Linked DNA regions of Homo sapiens. The protein of the gene in region 1 purifies or fractionates together with the protein of each later gene. This does not show direct contact. Each region holds a gene or a part of one and is shown on either strand. Other genes may lie near its edges. The genes, in order: RHBDL2 and OTUD7B.

What was found.
Region 2: the proteins of RHBDL2 (region 1) and OTUD7B purify together in Homo sapiens (affinity purification with western blotting; one study listed by BioGRID). This does not show direct contact.

Annotation. Positions count from the first base shown.
Region 1 is NC_000001.11:38,917,651-38,921,470, reverse strand, and holds part of RHBDL2 (rhomboid-related protein 2), read left to right. Parts: intron 1-1,941; exon of another isoform or gene 1,942-2,133; coding exon of another isoform or gene 2,134-2,258; coding exon 2,259-2,504; intron 2,505-3,820. UniProt on the Homo sapiens protein: Involved in regulated intramembrane proteolysis and the subsequent release of functional polypeptides from their membrane anchors. Known substrate: EFNB3.
Region 2 is NC_000001.11:150,004,003-150,007,822, forward strand, and holds part of OTUD7B (OTU domain-containing protein 7B), read right to left. Parts: exon of another isoform or gene 2,703-3,820; intron 1-2,702. UniProt on the Homo sapiens protein: Negative regulator of the non-canonical NF-kappa-B pathway that acts by mediating deubiquitination of TRAF3, an inhibitor of the NF-kappa-B pathway, thereby acting as a negative regulator of B-cell responses.

The DNA.
Region 1 (3,820 bases):
CTAAAACTCATTCATCCATCCACAGCCAATAACAACTAATAATTATAGGGTGTTTACTACGTGCCAGATACAGTTCTTTTCTTTTTCTTCGAGACACAGTCTTGCTCCATCACCCAGTCTGGAGTGCAGTGGTGTGAATTTGGCTCACTGTAACCTCTGCCTCCCAGGTTCAAGCGATTCTCCTGCTTCAGCCTTCCTTCAGCTGGAAGTACAGGCACGTGCCACTATGCCCAGCTAATTTTTGTATTTTTAGTAGAGATGGCGTTTCACCAGGTTGGCCAGTCTGTTCTGAAACTCCTGACCTCAAGTGATGGGATTACAGGCGTGAGCCACCACGCCCGGCCCAGATACTGTTTTAAGTGCTTTACATGCATTATCTCAAGTAAGCTTCCCGGCAATGTTATGAAGCAAGTGCTATCATTATCCTCAGTTTAAAATGGAATCTGAGGGTTTCCCAACAAGTTAAACATAGAATTAATTACCATATGACCCAGCAATTCCACTCATAGGTATATGCTCCCCCTCAAACTGGAAACTGATGTTTAAAGAAAACTTGTGCCAGGTGCGGTGGCTCATGCCTGTAATCCCAGCACTTTGGGAGGCCGAGGCGGGCGGATCACGAGGTCAGGAGATCGAGACCATCCTGGCTAACATGGTGAAACCCTGTCTCTACTAAAAATACAAAAAAAAAAAAAAATTAGCCAGGTGTGGTGGTGGGCACCTGTAGTCCCAGCTACTCAGGAGGTTGAGGCAGGAAAATGGTGTGAACCCGGGAGGCGGAGGTTGCAGTGAGCCGAGATCACACCACTGCTCTCCAGCCTGGGCGACAGAGCGAGACTCTGTCTCAAAAAAAAAAAAAAAAAGAGAAAACTTGTACAGGGATGTTCACAATAGCGAAAAGGTGGAAACAACCCAAATGTCCATAAACAGACGAGTGGATAAACAAAATGTGGCGTGTCTATACAATGCAATAGCATTCAGCCATTAAAAAAAGGAAATTCTAGGCCAGGTGTAATGGCTCATGCCTGTAATCCCAACACTTTGGGAGGCCGAGGCAGGTGGATCACTTGAGGTTGGGAGTTCGAGACTAGCCTGGCCAACATGGTGAAACCCTGTCTCTACTAAAAATACAAAAATTTTCTGGGTGTGGTGCCGGGTGCCCATAATCCCAGCTACTTGGTAGGCTGAGGCAGGAGAATCGCTTGAACCTGGGAGGCAGAGGTTCCAGTGAGCCGAGATCGCACCACTGGACTCCAGCCTGGGTGACAGAGCGAGACTACATCTCAAAAAAAAAAAAAAAAAAAGAAAACATGTGAAGGAAGCCAACCACAAAAGGCCACATACTGGATGGTACATATGTATTGTATGATTTCATTTATGTGAAATATCCAGTATAGGTCAATCTATAGACACAGAAAGCAGATTAGTCGTTGCCAGGGACTGTGGTAAGAGGAGAATAGGAATTAACTGCTTAACAGGTATGGGTATGGGGTTTTTGTTTGTGATGAAAAAGTTTTGGAACTAGTGGTGATGGCTGCACAACATTGCAAATGTACTCAATGTCACTGAATTGTACACTCTAAATGGTTAAAAACAGGGCCGGCTTCGGTGGCTCACGCCTGTAATCCCAGCACTTTGGGAGGCCTAGGCGGGTGAATCACTTGAGGTCAGGAGTTCGAGACCAGCCTGGCCAACATGGTGAAACCCTGTCTCTACTAAAAATACAAAAATTAGCCAGGGAGGGTGAAGCAGAAGAATTGCTTGAACCCAGGAGGCAGAGGTTGCAGTGAGCTGAGATCTCGCCATTGCACTCCAGCCTGGGCAGAAGAGCAAGATGACTCCACCTCATAAAAAAAAAAAGAAAAAATATATATTATATATTAAATGGCGAAAATGGTAAATTTTATGTTATGTGTATTTCACCACAATTTAAGAAATATGTAATTTGAGGCTTGGAGAATTTAATTAAGTGATTTATCTGATGTTAACTTACAGCTGATACATGGTAGAGCTGCATTTTAATCTCAGTCATCTGGCTCTTTTTAAAACAATTACATAGAAAACTTTATTTTGGGCCATTTAGGAGGTTTAGATCATTTTGATCATCTTCAGCTGTCTTCTCTTCACATACAGGAAAGGCCTTGGAAAGCAGTCGTTGCGCCAGACAGCCCAGGGAAGAGCGGCAGCCTGAGGACCTAGGGCCACCTGCTGTTCCCTGGGATTCATGTCCTTCTGGGGAGGAGGGAGGACCCAGGACAATGGCTGCTGTTCATGATCTGGAGATGGAGAGCATGAATCTGAATATGGGGAGAGAGATGAAAGAAGAGCTGGAGGAAGAGGAGAAAATGAGAGAGGATGGGGGAGGTAAAGATCGGGCCAAGAGTAAAAAGGTCCACAGGATTGTCTCAAAATGGATGCTGCCCGAAAAGTCCCGAGGAACATACTTGGAGAGAGCTAACTGCTTCCCGCCTCCCGTGTTCATCATCTCCATCAGCCTGGCCGAGGTGAATGGGGAGCGGGGTGGGCACCGGGGTAAGTGGCATGGGGAAGCTGGGAACAAACTAGGGGTCAGATCTAGATCTAGAGAAGAGACTGGGAACATGGGAGAGAGCTTCGTGGGGATGGGGACAGCACACACCTCACCTCTGCCTCTGCTCTCCCCACAGCTGCCTTTGAGGCTTTCCCTATACTCACGGTCACTGCCAACCCAGGGTGGAGTTTCATTTGTCAGACAAATCTGCCCAGCTGTGGCTGCAATTTCAGTGGCTTCCTTTCATTTTAGTTGTGAGGTCTTTAGGAAGCAAATCATTCTGGGGTTGCACAAGGGCTTTCTCTCATGAACCGATTTAGGCTGGTTGGTAAGGCATTTCTGGGACCCCAGGTTTAGAAGTGTTATAGAATTCTTCTGAATTTCAGTAGGAAAAAAACGGGATCCTTTAACAATGTCTACTTCAGGCAGCACGTGGTGTGTTTTCAGGCTCTGATCTAGTCAGTCCTCTTGTTTTCCAGAAAAGACTGCAAGGCTCAGAGAGGTGGGATGACTATCCCAAGGTCACATCATAGTCACTGGGCCAGGATGAGGCTCCCCTGTACCTCGTGGCACCTAGTTTTTTCCCCCACACTTGATGTCCTATAAAGGAACTGGCCAACCATGGCTGCCTGTGGAGTGTGACTTCAGGGGCATTAGGAAGTTCCTAATGTAACCCTTTTAGTTCCCACTGATGCACTGATGCCTCAGCTTCCTTATCACAAACTGTATTAGTCAAGAGTTCTTCAGAAAAACAGAATCAATAGGTGTGTGTTCCCTGGGGGAAGAGAGATTAATATTTATTTTAAGGAATTAGCTCAAATGATTATGGAGACTTGGCAAGTCCAAAATCTTCAGGGAAGGCTGGCAGGCTGGAGGCCCAGGGAAGACTTGCCATTCAAGTCCAAAGGTAGAGTTCTGCTGGCAGAATTCCCTTTTCCTAACAGAGGACAATCTTTTCTCTAGCAAGGCCTTCAACTGATTAGACAAGGCTCACCCACAGTATGGTGGGAAATCGGCTTTACTCAAAGACTACTGATTTAAATATTAGTATAAACCATACCCTCACAAAAACACCTAGGATAATGTTTAAGCAAATGTCTGGGTAGCATAGCCTAGCTAAGTTGACACATAAAATTAACTGTTGCAGGGACCAAGCCTCTTATGGCTCAGACAAAGGTAAGGCTAAGGTGTAAGCATCCTGGGAGATGCTGTGGTCAAGTCTGTTTAGGGTGAAGGGGCACAGTTCTAATTTTTTTCACAGGATTTCACTGTGAGACTGCTTGCAACTGG
Region 2 (3,820 bases), about 110 Mb from region 1:
TGTCTCAGACACCCAGGCACAACGTGTCACAGTTGTAGTTGACTCATCACCCTTCTTCATCTCCCACATCCACCCCTCATTAATTTCCATTTTTCCTTCACAGTCTCTTTTTCACTCTTTCCTCTCCTTAGCCTACCCTCCACAACTCTAACTCGGGCCTCATCACTTCACACACCCCCAGTGTCAATCTCCATTCCCTCCCAGCCAACCTGTGTATTAGTATCATCATACTGCTATTCTATTCAAAAATCTTCTACCATTTAAAATATAAAGTTGACCGGGCACGGTGGCTCATGCCTGTCATCCCAGCACTTTGGGAAGCTAAGGTGGGCGGATCACTTGAGGTCAGGAGTTTGAGACCAGCCTGGCCAACATGGTGAAATCCTGTCTCTACTAAAAATACAAAAATTAGCTGGGCATGCTGGTGCACGCCTGTAATCCCAGCTACTCAGGAGGCTGAGGCACGAGAATCACTTGAACCCAGGAGGCGGAGGTTGCAGTCAGCCAAGATTGTGTCACTGCACTCCAGCCTGAGCTGGACAACAGAGCAAGACCCTGTCTCAAAAAAATAAATAAATAAATACATAAATAAATAAATAAATAAATTTTATATATATATATAAACTTATAAGCCTAGCTTTTTAACACCCTCTATAAACATAGCTCCAAACCAACCTACCCACCTTCATTTCACTACTGCTCACTGCCACTCAGGTTAGTCTCCTCACCGCCCCAAGAACATCTCAGGTATAGTCCTGTTTCCAGGCTTTCGCTTGATCCCTTTCAGCTCCAATATGAAATGTTTTGTTATCCTCTTCATCTTCATCCCTTGTACCTAATACAATAACACTTATTCATTTATTTTTTTATTTATTTTGGAGACAGAGTCTTGCTCTGTCACCCAGGCTGGAGTGCAGTGGTGCTATCTCGGCTGTTTGCAACCTCCATCTCCTGGGTTCAAGTGATTCTCCTGCCTCAGCCTCCTGAGTAGCTGGGATTACAGGCGTGAGCCACTGTGCCTGGCCTATTTTTTTATTAAGATCTGAAATGAGTTATAATTCCTCTGTGACATAACTACCTGAGTACTCCTCTCCCCAAATACCTACGGTATGAGGTCTGCACTATGCAACTAACAATATAGTTTCACATTTTAAAATTTTGTGTGGCATATTAAGAGGCTCAGCAAGTATTCATTCCTTTTTATTCTTCTTACTCCCAACTGGACTGTAAACTCTTCAAGGACACAAAGTTGTCATTTTTCCTAATCCTCCATAGCACCTAGCAAAGAATTAAACTCATAGTGGGTCACTACAAATAACAGTTTAGTAATTTTCTTATCTACAGCTATTTCTTAGAGGAAATAAAGGGCTAAGGTATAATCCTAAAAAAAGCACAGTTGAAAATAATCCCTATCTAGTTGTATAAAATAAGATTCCTGACTTTTCCACCTGATTTCTAGCTCAGAAATACTACAATCTCCTGACTCAAGAAGTAAATAATAATCCTGTGCTCGTGACATCAGTTTGGTAATGATTATAAAGAGGTGGGGGAGAGTGGCAGGGATGGAGAAAAGCAAGTCAACTGGAGAAGAAAAAAAAGGGATGAAAGAATGGCATGTGATTTTGTTTACTTCTTAAATGTGGACACTTCTGCCCATTCCTTTTTTTTTTAATTGGACATACTTTCAAACAACTTTCCTACAGGAGGAAAAGTCTGACAGATTTTCAATGAAGCTGATATCTGGAAGAGCCTCTACAAAGCACAAGTCCTTTGAGAAAGCCGGCTTAATCTTCAACAACACAACATAATGTAGTGGCATTCGTCCAGATACTGTGAATGAAGGCTCATTCTGGCTGGAACACAAGCATCACCTGCCAGTCATTCTCAGACATAAGACAGACAGCCTAGGAGGCCACATTGGATCCATACAGATTTTGAAAAGAAATTGGTCTATCAACATATTCAGTGTAGTCTAGTCTTAATTATCTACAAATGGATTATTCATTTTACGGATTTCTAAGGCCAAATCTTTAATGCAAGAATGACTGTTCTTCATCATCAGTGTACTCTCCCCACCATCAGGTAATATAAGCTTAGAAATGCAAATTTATTTCAATATTAGTATGATCCCCAAAAATGAAAATAAATCTAGTTTAAAAAATAATGTATTTTCGGCCCGGCACACTGGCTCACGCCTGTAATCCCAGCACTTTGGGAGGCCGAGTCAGGCGGATCACGAGGTCAGGAGATCAAGACCATCCTGGCTAACACGGTGAAACCCCGTCTCTACTAAAAATACAAAAAATTAACCGGGCGTGGTGGTGGGCGCCTGTAGTCCCAGCTACTCGGGAGGCTGAGGCAGGACAATGGCATGAACCTGGGAGGCAGAGCTTGCAGTAAGCTGAGATTGCGCCACTGTACTTCAGTCTGGGAGCAAAGTTGTCATTTTTCCTAAACCTCCATAGCACCTAGCAAAGAATTAAACTCATAGTGGGTCACTACAAATAACAGTTTAGTAATTTTTCTTATCTAAAACTATTTCTTAGAGGAAATAAAGGGATAAGGTATAATCCTAAAAAAAACACAGTTGAAAATAACCAGGAAATGTCTTTGTTAAGTTCTGAATTACCTACAACAGTGCTCCCTACATTAGCAGAGACAACTGAGAGTTAAATGCACTTGAAACATAATGCTGTCCTTACTATAAGCTCTTGAGGAGAATCCGGCCATAGTCTTGAGACTTCCCCACAGGTTGGTGCACTACGAGACAGGAACAAGCAGGCTCAGCATAGTAAGGTGTGTAAACACAAAAACTTCTACAAGGAATCTTATGCCTCCTGGCTGTATCCCTTCAGGTTAGGATGGTACAGAAAATAAGAGTCACAATGTACGGATGCCTGCCTGATTCCTTGTCCCTGAGTTCCTGAACCAAAGGGCTCAATATTTCTCATTAAATCCGTCCTTTGTTCAAGGACCTACAATGATTCTATTGACCCTTCTATCAACACCCAACAGAGTCTGGCTTCTGAGTCCCCTCCACCCTCTTGCCTGCTCTACTCATGACTTGCCCAACCCACATTCTCTACAGTCACTCTCATATATTCCCCCCACTCACAACTTAGTCATTCATATCATCATTGCACACTGTACATTCTATACTTTCTGTTTGGAAGATCCTTTCTTTTCTTTTATTCCCAACACAGTAACTATTTCATTTACTTGAATGCTCACATTTTACAGATAAGGAAAAGAAGTTAACTTGTCCAAGGTCACATGGTAAAAAATAGCCGCAAGGTCTGAACGAAGACCCATCTAACTCAATAGCCCATACCTCTTTATGACTCATCCATAGCCTCCCAAGTCCATTTCAAAATTTACTGACTCAGAAATCTCCCCAATTTATTTCACTGATTCTTACTTTGTTACTTTAAGTCTTCTCAGCCCTTACATACTTATCAGCACGTTAAATTTGCTTTTGTCTATATGTTGTTTCCTAAATGTTAAAGCTCATAATAGTCTGCCTTCCCATATTTATACACCACCTTTCCCATCCACCCTCAACCCCAAGAGCAAAGACACATGTCTTTACATCTTTTATACCTCCCTAAAGCCTGTCACTGGAGCATGGAGACTGCTTTATCCAGAGAAGTGTTCAATCATTACTCAGCAAGGATGTCTTATTTAAAAACAAACAAACAACTCTCTTCTATTATATTAAAAAGTCAACTGAATTCAGGCATTCATGAGAAAAACTGCCCTGTATCTATCTTCCAGTTACACAAATTTTTAATTACCTGAATTTATCAGAGGCTACAAAAAA